3 linked regions of the Homo sapiens genome follow. The protein of the gene in region 1 interacts with the protein of each later gene in a pairwise test. Each region holds a gene or a part of one and is shown on either strand. Other genes may lie near its edges.

Region 1 (4,126 bases):
AATTGCAGGCGTGAGCTCCCGCCCCTGGCCACACATTATTTTAGACTATGAATTTGTTCCTCTCCGGTGCAAATAACATGTCAAATCAAAAACATGTATAGTTCTGCAGTGGTAAACAAAAGTGTGTTTCTATTACTAAGATGCTCATCCTTCAAGACTGAGCTAAATGTGAAGCCAGTCTGAAGACATTCTGAGGCAAAATTAATCATGTTCTTCTTTGTACTTCTGTGGCATTTGTTTGTTCTTTTTTTTGAGACACGGTGTCACTTTGTGGTCCAGGCTGGAGTGCAGTAGTGTGGTCTTGGCTCACTGAAGCCTCGACTTTGGGCTCAAGCAATCCTACCATGTCAGCCTCCTGGGTAGCTGGGACCACAGGCACACACTTACCATGTGTGGCTTATTTTTGTTTTAGGTTTTTTTTTTTTTTTTTTTTTTGTAGAGACGGGGTCTCCCTGTATTGCTCAGGCTGGTCTCAAACTCCTGGCCTCAAGAGATCTTCCTGCCTAAACCTCCCAAAGCGCTGGGATTACAGGTGTAAGCCACCACGGCCAGCCACATTTTGTATATTGCGGTGTCTCAATTGTATTACATTATATTCTAGCCAATTTTCAGGTATTTTCCTCCACTGTTTAAGCACTGTGGATTCCCAGTTTAATCTAGTATTTTGTATCCTCTGCTCCTAGCTCAGTCCTGGCAATAGATTCAGTACCTCTTTAACAAGTAATGAATCAATGTGTATATGGATGTGAATGATTTCCGAAGACAAATCTGGTAACACCTATCAATATTACATGAACAATTCCATTTATTTTCCTCCAACCCGATGATTCAATTAAGTTATCACTCATTTTTGTTCAAATCGTATATTCTTTCTTCTGTGCCAACAGGCTAGAATCATTTTCCGCAAAGGAAACAGTTTTTAGTGATGTCGTCCACGAGAAAAAAAAATATTTAACCCTGGCTTCTGGGCATTGTCATTCTCGTACAGCCCTCTGCCCCTCCACACTGTTATAAAGAAGGTAAAATTCTAGGAAGGAGGAGCCGCTGAGCCAAGGACAGAGCGGCGGGCTCCCAGCTCAGCTGGCGGATAACGCGCGCGGCCGGGAAGGCGGCAGGCGGGCGGCAGGCGGGCGGCAGGCGGGCGGCAGGCGGGCGGCAGGCGGGCGGCAGGCGGGCGGCAGGCGGGCGGCAGATTCTGCGCACGCGCAGGCAGCCCAGCTGCCAGTCAGGCGTCCCGGGCTGGGCATGCGCCACTTGTGCGGCAGTCGGGTGGGAAGCCGTGTCTCGCAGTCGTGGACTCGTGCAGCTGGGGCGTCCGCAGCCGCTCGTCACCCGCGTGATGCTGTTTCTGGCGTTGGGCAGCCCGTGGGCGGTCGAACTGCCTCTCTGCGGAAGGAGGACTGCATTGTGTGCGGCCGCCGCGCTCCGAGGTCCCCGGGCCTCTGTCTCCCGGGCGTCCTCCAGCAGCGGGCCTTCGGGGCCGGTAGCCGGCTGGAGTACGGGGCCTTCGGGAGCCGCGCGCCTTCTCCGGCGTCCGGGTCGAGCGCAGGTAGGGCGTCCGAGGTCTGGTGTCCCAAGTGAGGCGGGGAGGGCGGGCGTCGTGTCGGGCCTGGGGAGCCCCAGCGGCTCTTCGCGACCTCTCCCAGGTGTCCGTGGCTGGAGCGCGGGAGGAGCCCCCTCTGCGGGGCTTGCAGAAGTAGCAGGCCGAGGGCCCCGGGGTCCTCAGCCTCCGCGAGTCCAGGAGAACGGCTGGAAAGTGCTTACTTTTATGGTAGTTCCAAATCCAGAGGGTTTGTGGTGACAACTATATGTAGTTCCTTTTCTGCCCTTGAGTAGAAGCTTAGAAGTGTTAATTTGCAAAAAATTGGATGCAGCACCTGGAAATAGAACCGAAAGAGCCAGGTTAACCTGACTTTGAGCTTGTTCTACTTTTATGAGGTGGCTGTACTTTTAAGAATTACTTTGGTCCCTGGGAAAAGGGGGATGCAGATGTTAATTCTTTTATTTTGATCTGAATAAATTGTCTTCTAATTCTACTCTGTAAAATATCAGGATTGGCAAACCTGGTTAAAACTTGGAAGAAATGCTTAAAATGGAAATTGGAATCTAATTACATTTCAGCATTGAGGAATTAGGCATGCCTTTTACATTTTGAAGTGTATACACTGTGAAACTCATTTTCAGATGTATGGGGAACGCTTCTGTTCCCTTGAAATTTGATGTAGGATTTCAAGTAAATTTTATTTCTTTTTTTTTGGAGGTGAAGTCTCGCTCTGTCACCCTGGTTGGAGTGCAGTGACGTGATCTTGGCTCACTGCAACCTCCGCCTTCCGGGTTCAAGCGATTCTCCTGCCTCAGCCTCCCCAGTAGTTGGGATTACAGGCGCGCTCCACCACACCCCGGCTGATTTTTTTTTTGTATTTTTAGTAGAGACGGGGTTTCACCGTGTTGGCCAGGCTCGTCTTAAACTCCTGACCTCAAATCATCCTCCTGCCTCGGCCTGTCAAAGGGTTGGGATTACAGGCGTGAGCCGCTGTGCCCAGCCAAATTTTATTTCTTGTCAAGAAATAAGAGGACCAGGGGATACACGGTATTTACAAGGTCTTTAGAGAAAGATTTGATCTCTTTAATACTATCATATAAATATTTTAGCAGTATTTGTAAAAGGCCTGGACTTTAAATATAATGTGAGTTTGCGGAGTATTTTACTTAAATTATTTTAGTAAAATTAAATTTTATTTCTTAGAGATGGGGTCTTGCCATGTTGCCCAGGCTGGCCTTAAACTCCTGGGCTCAAGTGATCCACCTCAGCCTCCCCAGTAGCTGGGGCTATAGACGTGTTCCATTACACCAGCTAAATGTATTTATTTTTTGAAAAGGTGTTGCATTTAAATAGAATGGAAATGATGTCGTCATTAACAGTGGAGTAGAAGAAACTGTTACTATTTTTACTTGTTCAAGGTCACACTAGACCTAGAAACCTGAGAGCTGGGATGCTAAGCTAACAAACTCCAGCTCTGCAGTTTTCTACTTGTGACTAGAATTAAGGCAAGCCATTCTGTCAGCCAATTTATTTCTTTAACTCTGTAGATTATTTGGGAGAATTCCTTATGTCACCTCATGTGACAAGTTCTTTTCATTACAATTTTATTTTATTTTTTTGAGACGGAGTCGTGCTCTGTTGCCCAGGTTGGAGTACAGTGGTGTGATCTCGGACCACTGCAATCTCCGCCTCCCAGGTTCAAGCGATTCTTCTGCCTCAGCCTCCGGAGTAGCTGGATTACAGGCGCCAGACACCATGCCCGGCTAATTGTTTGCATTTTTAGTAGAGACGGGGTTTCACCATGTTGGCCAGGCTGGTCTTGAACTCCTGACCTCAAGTGATCCGCCCCCCTCGGCCTCCCAAAGTGCTGGGATTACAGGCATGAGCCACTGCACCTGCATTACAATTTTAAAAATAAACTTAAGCTGGGCATGGTGGCTCATGCCTGTAATCCCAGCACTTTGGGAGGCCAAGGTGGCAGATCACTTGAGGTCAAGAGTTCAAGACCAGTCTGGCCAACATGGTGAAACCCCGTCTCTAATAAAAATACAGAAATTAGCCGGGTGTGGTGGTGGGCACCTGTAATCCCAGCTACTCAGGAGACTGAGGCAGGAGAATTGCTTGAACCCGGGAAGCAGAGGTTGCAATGGTGAGCTGAGATCGCACCACTGCCCTCCAGTCTGGGAGACAGAGCAAGACTCTGTCTCAAAAAAAAAAACTTAAAAAAATTTAAGAAGGTTAGTTGACCATAATGATCCCTGTTTCAATAGATCCCTGTTTATTGGGAAGGATATGTTCGATTCTTAAATACGCCATCTGACAAATCAGAAGATGGAAGGCTAATTTATACTGGCAATATGGCCCGAGCAGTGTTTGGTAAGTAATTGGAGGTGGGTGTACTTACTTTGTTTTTTTCTCTTTTAATTGTAAAAATATCCTTACCATATCTTACTTGTTGTTATGGCATCCCTTAATTACAAGACGTAAGGAAAATTAGATTTTCATTTTTTTTTCTTGAGGTGTGTTGATAAGATGTAGAGACCTTTGCATTTTTAGATTTTTATTTGAGACAGAGTCTCACTC
Region 2 (3,649 bases), on another chromosome or scaffold:
ACCTCTAGTATAGCTCAATGCTCAAGAGTTTGCATGGGGAAGTCAGGCCTGAGTTCAAATGATAACTTCTATTTTTTGGCTTGTGCACCTAGGACAAACTGTTGAGCTACTCTAAACTTCAAATTTATTGTATGTTAGTCTAGGATAATAATAAAAGTAGCAACTTTGTAAGGCTGTGAGTTTTACAGGGGAAGTGCATGTAAAGCCCTGAGCACACTGCCTGACCCAGAGTTCTCAGGAAATGCTAGAGAGGAATTAAGCAGGTAATGTGCCCAGTGCCACGTGAATGCTATAGGTAGAAAGTGCTACAGGAGTTGAGAGGAGGAAATGGACACTGTGGTGGAAGAGATGGGAGAGCTCCAGTGGAGAAGGCAGAGTATGCACTAAGCTTAGAAAGAAAAGCAGACCTCAGATTAGGAGGTGAGAAGGCATTCCTGGCACGGCGAGCCAAAGAGCAGCAGAGGAGGACTGTGGATGCCTTGCCTGTAGACTACTTTTGCTGCCACTCTTTGTATATTTATTTTTGCGTATGTGCTCAAACATTTTCCCAAATGCAAATTGAAGATATTCATCTCTAGAGATGCTTATTTTCTCATTTGAAAAAACTGTGCTCCCTCTCTCTTTTCCATGGCTTTTTGCTAAGTCTATATGGCATCTATAATTTTGCTTATGGAGTCAGCTTGATTAAACCATTTTGGGTCAGCATGGAGAAATAGGTTACAAAACTGGCTGTGCATCATGATCACCCAGGGAACTTTTTAGTCCTGCAGATTTCTGTGTCCCACCCGAGATTCTGACTATTGGGTCTGATGTGGGACCAGAGAATATGCATTATTTTAAAAGTTCCTTTAATTTTCATTTGGCTTGGTCAAAAGTTTGAAAAACACTGGTAATCTTTAAGGCCCCACCCAGCTCCAGTGATCTGTATTTCCCATAACAGTAACATTTTTATTCTCTCTGCTATTCTCAAGAGAGGGTTACTGTGTTGTCAAGAGAGAAAAACTAAACAAGCCAGACATCAAAAGCTATAGCTACCAACTTTGATGTGAAGAGTCCTTTCTATATGAAATTGTATAATTCCAAAAAATCCAGGTGGGAGTGTTCCAAGGTCCTTATGCTGACGGGAAGGAAGGACAAACACTGGCCAACTTTATACTTTGTTAAACATGTAAGTCGAGATTTAATAGAGTCTACAACTTCCAAACCAGTGGAAGGGGGAAAATGAAACCAAAGGAAATGAAAAAATAAAAGATCTCAATACGAAAAAAGAGAGGGGGAAAAAAGCGAAACATAGAAAAAAATGAAACAAAGAACAAAATAAGATGCTAGAAGTGAATTCCAATATATTGATAACTAAAATCAGTGCAAATCACGGTACAGTTAAAAAACAGATCAATCTAAACAATATGATGTCTAACATTACATCCGTATATTGGAAAACCATGAGAAAAAGCAAGAAGATGATTAGCCCAAAATGTATGATACGTTTATCTCAACAGGAGAGAGGGCTCCTGGGGTGGGCACCCAGGAAGCTCTAAAGATACGATAGTGTTCTTTGAAGTTTCTTTAAGTTCTTTAAGTTGGGTGGTAAGTAGACAGGTATTCTTATTTTTTTTATTCTTTTAAGCATTATTTTTTAAAGTTCACTATATTTTTTGTAGTTTTGTTTGAATAATATAATACACCCCCCTGGCATGCGTGCATCGCACACACACTCAAAAAAGGATAAAAATAAATTGCCAATGTTTTCCTAAAGCCCCACTCTCATATTATTAGATGTGAATTTTTAATGTGATTTTTTGTTCTTTAATGACGTGATTTTTTTGTCATGAAAGTTTTCTCCCCAGCACAAAACTCTGTTTTGAATTAATCTTGTGACCCAACACTCCAAACAAGTCTTCACATTGATGCTTTTTGTCATAATACGATAATTCCTATATAGTTTCCCTTTTCGTTGAATTACATAAAATAATTCATTCAATTAAAACCTTATAAGCTTTTTATTGAGCAATGATCTTGTGTCAGATGCTGTTTTAATCATTGTATATGAATTAATCCATTTAATTTTTATAAAAACCCTTGGGAATGGTACTAATCCTGCCCTCATTTTAAGCCTGAGGTAACTACAGCACAGAGAAGTTAGGTGATGTGGTCAAAGGCACACAGCCGATCAGTGGAAGAGCCAGGATTGGAACCCAGGCAGCCTGGCACCAGAGCCATGTTCCTGACTTTGTGCTAGGCTGCTCAGCTGTGGCCCGTAAAGCATCTTACTACTGAAGAGAGTGAAGGAGGAGTAGGAGGGTACCTCTGGACTTCAAGGGCCCCTCCGTAGTATGTCATGTCTGACCATAAAGCTACATATATCACAATTACATCATTCTTTGGTTGTTAAAGGAAAGATTTTTTTTTTTTTTTGGCCAGGAAAGGAAGAAAGGGAGGGAGAGATGGAAGGAGGGAAGGAATCCAAAGGAATCCAACAAAAATATTGGCTGATTGGCTGGCCGTGGTGTCAGAAGAGAAATAAAAATCTGCTGATCTCATCTTTATGCTGTTTCCAATGAACAACAAAAGGCAAATGTTCTTCGACAGAACAGCACAAACATACTAGGTGGCTAAACTAGAGAACAGGTACTTCAGAGATGTTGCCTTAAGCAGATGCTCCCCGGCAGTGACCCTGGGAAACAGCTGTTCCAAGCCTCCTCCACCTGGAGGCCAAGATCTCTCTCCAAACACATCTCAGAAGAGATGCACAGTTTATCTAACAGTTCATACTTTGAGGGGGTTTGCTCTATGTTAGCAGTTAAACATAAGTCCTCCCCACGCACCTCCACACCCTAGGCTCTGTAGTCTTGGAGAATTCATAGAGAATGTGGAGATGTCAGGAACATTCAAACAGGTAACTGGACTAATTCTTAAAAGTGAGGGGTGTGTGTGTGTGTGTGTGTGTGTGTGTGTGATAGATCCTGGAAAATATTTATCACTTAGTTGCCTACCAATCTACATAAATCCAGAAGAAAAAAACTAAAAGGAATGTCTTTTGAGTATTTAGCCTCAATGCTCAGACTATGACTGCTGGGAACCAGCAGGGTTCAAAGAAGAGTTTGTGTGATGCCCAGATTACTTTAAAAAAAAAATTCTCAGCATTAACAAATATGAATGAGTGTCCAGAGGTACGCATCTGGGAACTAGTAGATAAAATTCAATATGTGTCTCCTGGAGAAAAGGCTAAAGAAAGACAGAAAGCGTTAACTGTCTTCAAAAACCTGAAGGGCATCACATAGAGAAAGCACAGACTTTTCCTGGGCTATTGCAGAGGATCACACAAAACAAATGGAAGAGTACAACAGGCAGAGTTTGGATGCAAGCCTTCTTTTCAAGTAAATGAAGATATTTATATATTTTTTTGCTTTTTACTTTTTTGGAGATGGAGTCTTGCTCTATTGCCCAGGCTGGAGTGCAGTGGCACAATCTCGGTTCACTGCAACTTCGCCTCCTGGGTTCAAACAATCCTCCTGCCTCAGTCTTCCAAGCAGCTGGGACTACAGGTGCCTGCCACCATGCCCAGCTAATTTTTTGCATTTTAGTAGAGACAGGGTTTCACCATGTTGGCCAGGCTGGTCTCGAACTCCTGACCTGGGTGATCCACCCA
Region 3 (3,649 bases), on another chromosome or scaffold:
AGCTTGAATGTTGCAACAGCCATGAAAAAAGAAATGCAAAGCGATTCAGGATGAGAGCAATACCCTACTCCAAAGAAGGCAAAATAGAAGCTCAGAGAGGTCAAGCATTTTGCCCAAGACCACACAGCTAGGAGTGGAACTCATGGCTGTCCAAGCCCCACGCCTCTGCTGAAGGTAGAGATGAATTACAGCAACAAGTCTAGAAAGGTGCCTGCCCTATGGTCTGTGAGTCTTGCCTAAGAATGAAAGAGGAGCCAGTGGGTTAAAGATGAGGTCACCAACAAACGGTGGTGTTGGAGTTTACCACTGGTTATTTTAATGGGTTTGCAAGAATTGTTAATTACTAATGTTTATTGAGCCTAGTGCAGTGCTTGGGGCATTTTGCACATTGTCTCTGATCCCTATCACAACCCTGAGAGGTAGTTTTTTTAACTCCCATTTTACAGGTGAGGTCATTGTGGTTCAAGGACGTTAAGTAACTTCCCCAGCGTCACACGGCTTATAAGTAAGGCAGCCAGGATGTGAACCCAGTAGGACTATCTGGCTGCAAAGTCCCCACCCTCCCTCGCCATCTGTATCCTCCAATCATCTTCAGTGCTTTGCTGATAGAAGGTACGGAAATACGATGCCACAGACTGTCCAGGAAGACAGAAACTAGGCAGATGGGCTGGCCATGGTCTCCAAGCCAGACTGGAATCTCCAGGTCTGGAATGATATCATTTTTCTCTTTTAATAAATTAACTCACCCACCACACGGCTTTGAGAGGCTCAAAGGTGACCAACTCCCTTGGGAGGGCCCCGGTTGATAAGGAAGGAATGTGAATCCTCCCATCACGGAAGCTTCAAGGAGGTCAAGGGTCCAACACTTGAGATTGTTAGTGCTGTTGGTGGATACTGGCCAAGGAAATATCCCAGTGGAGCCTCGAGATGAAGAACATGAGGCCCCCGTTTAGATCCAAGGATCAGAGGGGGCTCTGTAAGACCCAGGGGAGTCAGGTGCACTGGAGCGCGGGCTGCAGAAAACAGCCTGAGCTCCACCTCGGCTTCTCCTTGCCCTGGCTGGTTGTCCTTAACCCCTGTCTCCTTCTGGACCAGTTTTTGTCCTTCCCTTGTGACCCTGAGGGGTAACAGCCTCTTTTCCACTTTCTTTCAGCGCCGACATGCTCAATGTCACCTTGCAAGGGCCCACTCTTAACGGGACCTTTGCCCAGAGCAAATGCCCCCAAGTGGAGTGGCTGGGCTGGCTCAACACCATCCAGCCCCCCTTCCTCTGGGTGCTGTTCGTGCTGGCCACCCTAGAGAACATCTTTGTCCTCAGCGTCTTCTGCCTGCACAAGAGCAGCTGCACGGTGGCAGAGATCTACCTGGGGAACCTGGCCGCAGCAGACCTGATCCTGGCCTGCGGGCTGCCCTTCTGGGCCATCACCATCTCCAACAACTTCGACTGGCTCTTTGGGGAGACGCTCTGCCGCGTGGTGAATGCCATTATCTCCATGAACCTGTACAGCAGCATCTGTTTCCTGATGCTGGTGAGCATCGACCGCTACCTGGCCCTGGTGAAAACCATGTCCATGGGCCGGATGCGCGGCGTGCGCTGGGCCAAGCTCTACAGCTTGGTGATCTGGGGGTGTACGCTGCTCCTGAGCTCACCCATGCTGGTGTTCCGGACCATGAAGGAGTACAGCGATGAGGGCCACAACGTCACCGCTTGTGTCATCAGCTACCCATCCCTCATCTGGGAAGTGTTCACCAACATGCTCCTGAATGTCGTGGGCTTCCTGCTGCCCCTGAGTGTCATCACCTTCTGCACGATGCAGATCATGCAGGTGCTGCGGAACAACGAGATGCAGAAGTTCAAGGAGATCCAGACAGAGAGGAGGGCCACGGTGCTAGTCCTGGTTGTGCTGCTGCTATTCATCATCTGCTGGCTGCCCTTCCAGATCAGCACCTTCCTGGATACGCTGCATCGCCTCGGCATCCTCTCCAGCTGCCAGGACGAGCGCATCATCGATGTAATCACACAGATCGCCTCCTTCATGGCCTACAGCAACAGCTGCCTCAACCCACTGGTGTACGTGATCGTGGGCAAGCGCTTCCGAAAGAAGTCTTGGGAGGTGTACCAGGGAGTGTGCCAGAAAGGGGGCTGCAGGTCAGAACCCATTCAGATGGAGAACTCCATGGGCACACTGCGGACCTCCATCTCCGTGGAACGCCAGATTCACAAACTGCAGGACTGGGCAGGGAGCAGACAGTGAGCAAACGCCAGCAGGGCTGCTGTGAATTTGTGTAAGGATTGAGGGACAGTTGCTTTTCAGCATGGGCCCAGGAATGCCAAGGAGACATCTATGCACGACCTTGGGAAATGAGTTGATGTCTCCGGTAAAACACCGGAGACTAATTCCTGCCCTGCCCAATTTTGCAGGGAGCATGGCTGTGAGGATGGGGTGAACTCACGCACAGCCAAGGACTCCAAAATCACAACAGCATTACTGTTCTTATTTGCTGCCACACCTGAGCCAGCCTGCTCCTTCCCAGGAGTGGAGGAGGCCTGGGGGCAGGGAGAGGAGTGACTGAGCTTCCCTCCCGTGTGTTCTCCGTCCCTGCCCCAGCAAGACAACTTAGATCTCCAGGAGAACTGCCATCCAGCTTTGGTGCAATGGCTGAGTGCACAAGTGAGTTGTTGCCCTGGGTTTCTTTAATCTATTCAGCTAGAACTTTGAAGGACAATTTCTTGCATTAATAAAGGTTAAGCCCTGAGGGGTCCCTGATAACAACCTGGAGACCAGGATTTTATGGCTCCCCTCACTGATGGACAAGGAGGTCTGTGCCAAAGAAGAATCCAATAAGCACATATTGAGCACTTGCTGTATATGCAGTATTGAGCACTGTAGGCAAGAGGGAAGAAAGAGAAGGAGCCATCTCCATCTTGAAGGAACTCAAAGACTCAAGTGGGAACGACTGGGCACTGCCACCACCAGAAAGCTGTTCGACGAGACGGTCGAGCAGGGTGCTGTGGGTGATATGGACAGCAGAAGGGGGAGACCAAGGTTCCAGCTCAACCAATAACTATTGCACAACCATCTGTCCCTGCCTCAGTTCCCTCTTCTGTAACATGAAGTCGTTGTGAGGGTTAAAGGCAGTAACAGGTATAAAGTACTTAGAAAAGCAAAGGGTGCTACGTACATGTGAGGCATCATTACGCAGACGTAACTGGGATATGTTTACTATAAGGAAAAGACACTGAGGTCTAGAAATAGCTCCGTGGAGCAGAATCAGTATTGGGAGCCGGTGGCGGTGTGAAGCACCAGTGTCTGGCACACAGTAGGTGCTCATTGGCTCCCTTCCACCTGTCATTCCCACCACCCTGAGGCCCCAACCGCCACACACACAGGAGCATTTGGAGAGAAGGCCATGTCTTCAAAGTCTGATTTGTGATGAGGCAGAGGAAGATATTTCTAATCGGTCTTGCCCAGAGGATCACAGTGCTGAGACCCCCCACCACCAGCCGGTACCTGGGAAGGGGGAGAGTGCAGGCCTGCTCAGGGACTGTTCCTGTCTCAGCAACCAAGGGATTGTTCCTGTCAATCAATGGTTTATTGGAAGGTGGCCCAGTATGAGCCCTAGAAGAGTGTGAAAAGGAATGGCAATG

Evidence for each region.
Region 2: the proteins of TMEM70 (region 1) and LPAR3 interact in binary tests that used the Homo sapiens proteins (3 or more experiments, as listed by UniProt).
Region 3: the proteins of TMEM70 (region 1) and BDKRB2 interact in a two-hybrid assay, tested with the Homo sapiens proteins (one large-scale study listed by BioGRID and IntAct).

The regions. Positions count from the first base shown.
Region 1 is NC_000008.11:73,974,943-73,979,068, forward strand, and holds the start of TMEM70 (transmembrane protein 70, mitochondrial), read left to right. Parts: upstream 1-1,252; 5' UTR 1,253-1,339; coding exon 1,340-1,549; intron 1,550-3,813; coding exon 3,814-3,919; coding exon of another isoform or gene 3,920-3,927; exon of another isoform or gene 3,928-3,933; intron 3,934-4,126. UniProt on the Homo sapiens protein: Scaffold protein that participates in the c-ring assembly of mitochondrial ATP synthase (F(1)F(0) ATP synthase or complex V) by facilitating the membrane insertion and oligomer formation of the subunit c/ATP5MC1 through its interaction.
Region 2 is NC_000001.11:84,816,569-84,820,217, reverse strand, and holds part of LPAR3 (lysophosphatidic acid receptor 3), read left to right. Parts: intron 1-3,649. UniProt on the Homo sapiens protein: Receptor for lysophosphatidic acid (LPA), a mediator of diverse cellular activities. May play a role in the development of ovarian cancer. Seems to be coupled to the G(i)/G(o) and G(q) families of heteromeric G proteins.
Region 3 is NC_000014.9:96,239,250-96,242,898, forward strand, and holds part of BDKRB2 (B2 bradykinin receptor), read left to right. Parts: intron 1-1,153; coding exon 1,154-2,255; 3' UTR 2,256-3,649. UniProt on the Homo sapiens protein: Receptor for bradykinin. It is associated with G proteins that activate a phosphatidylinositol-calcium second messenger system.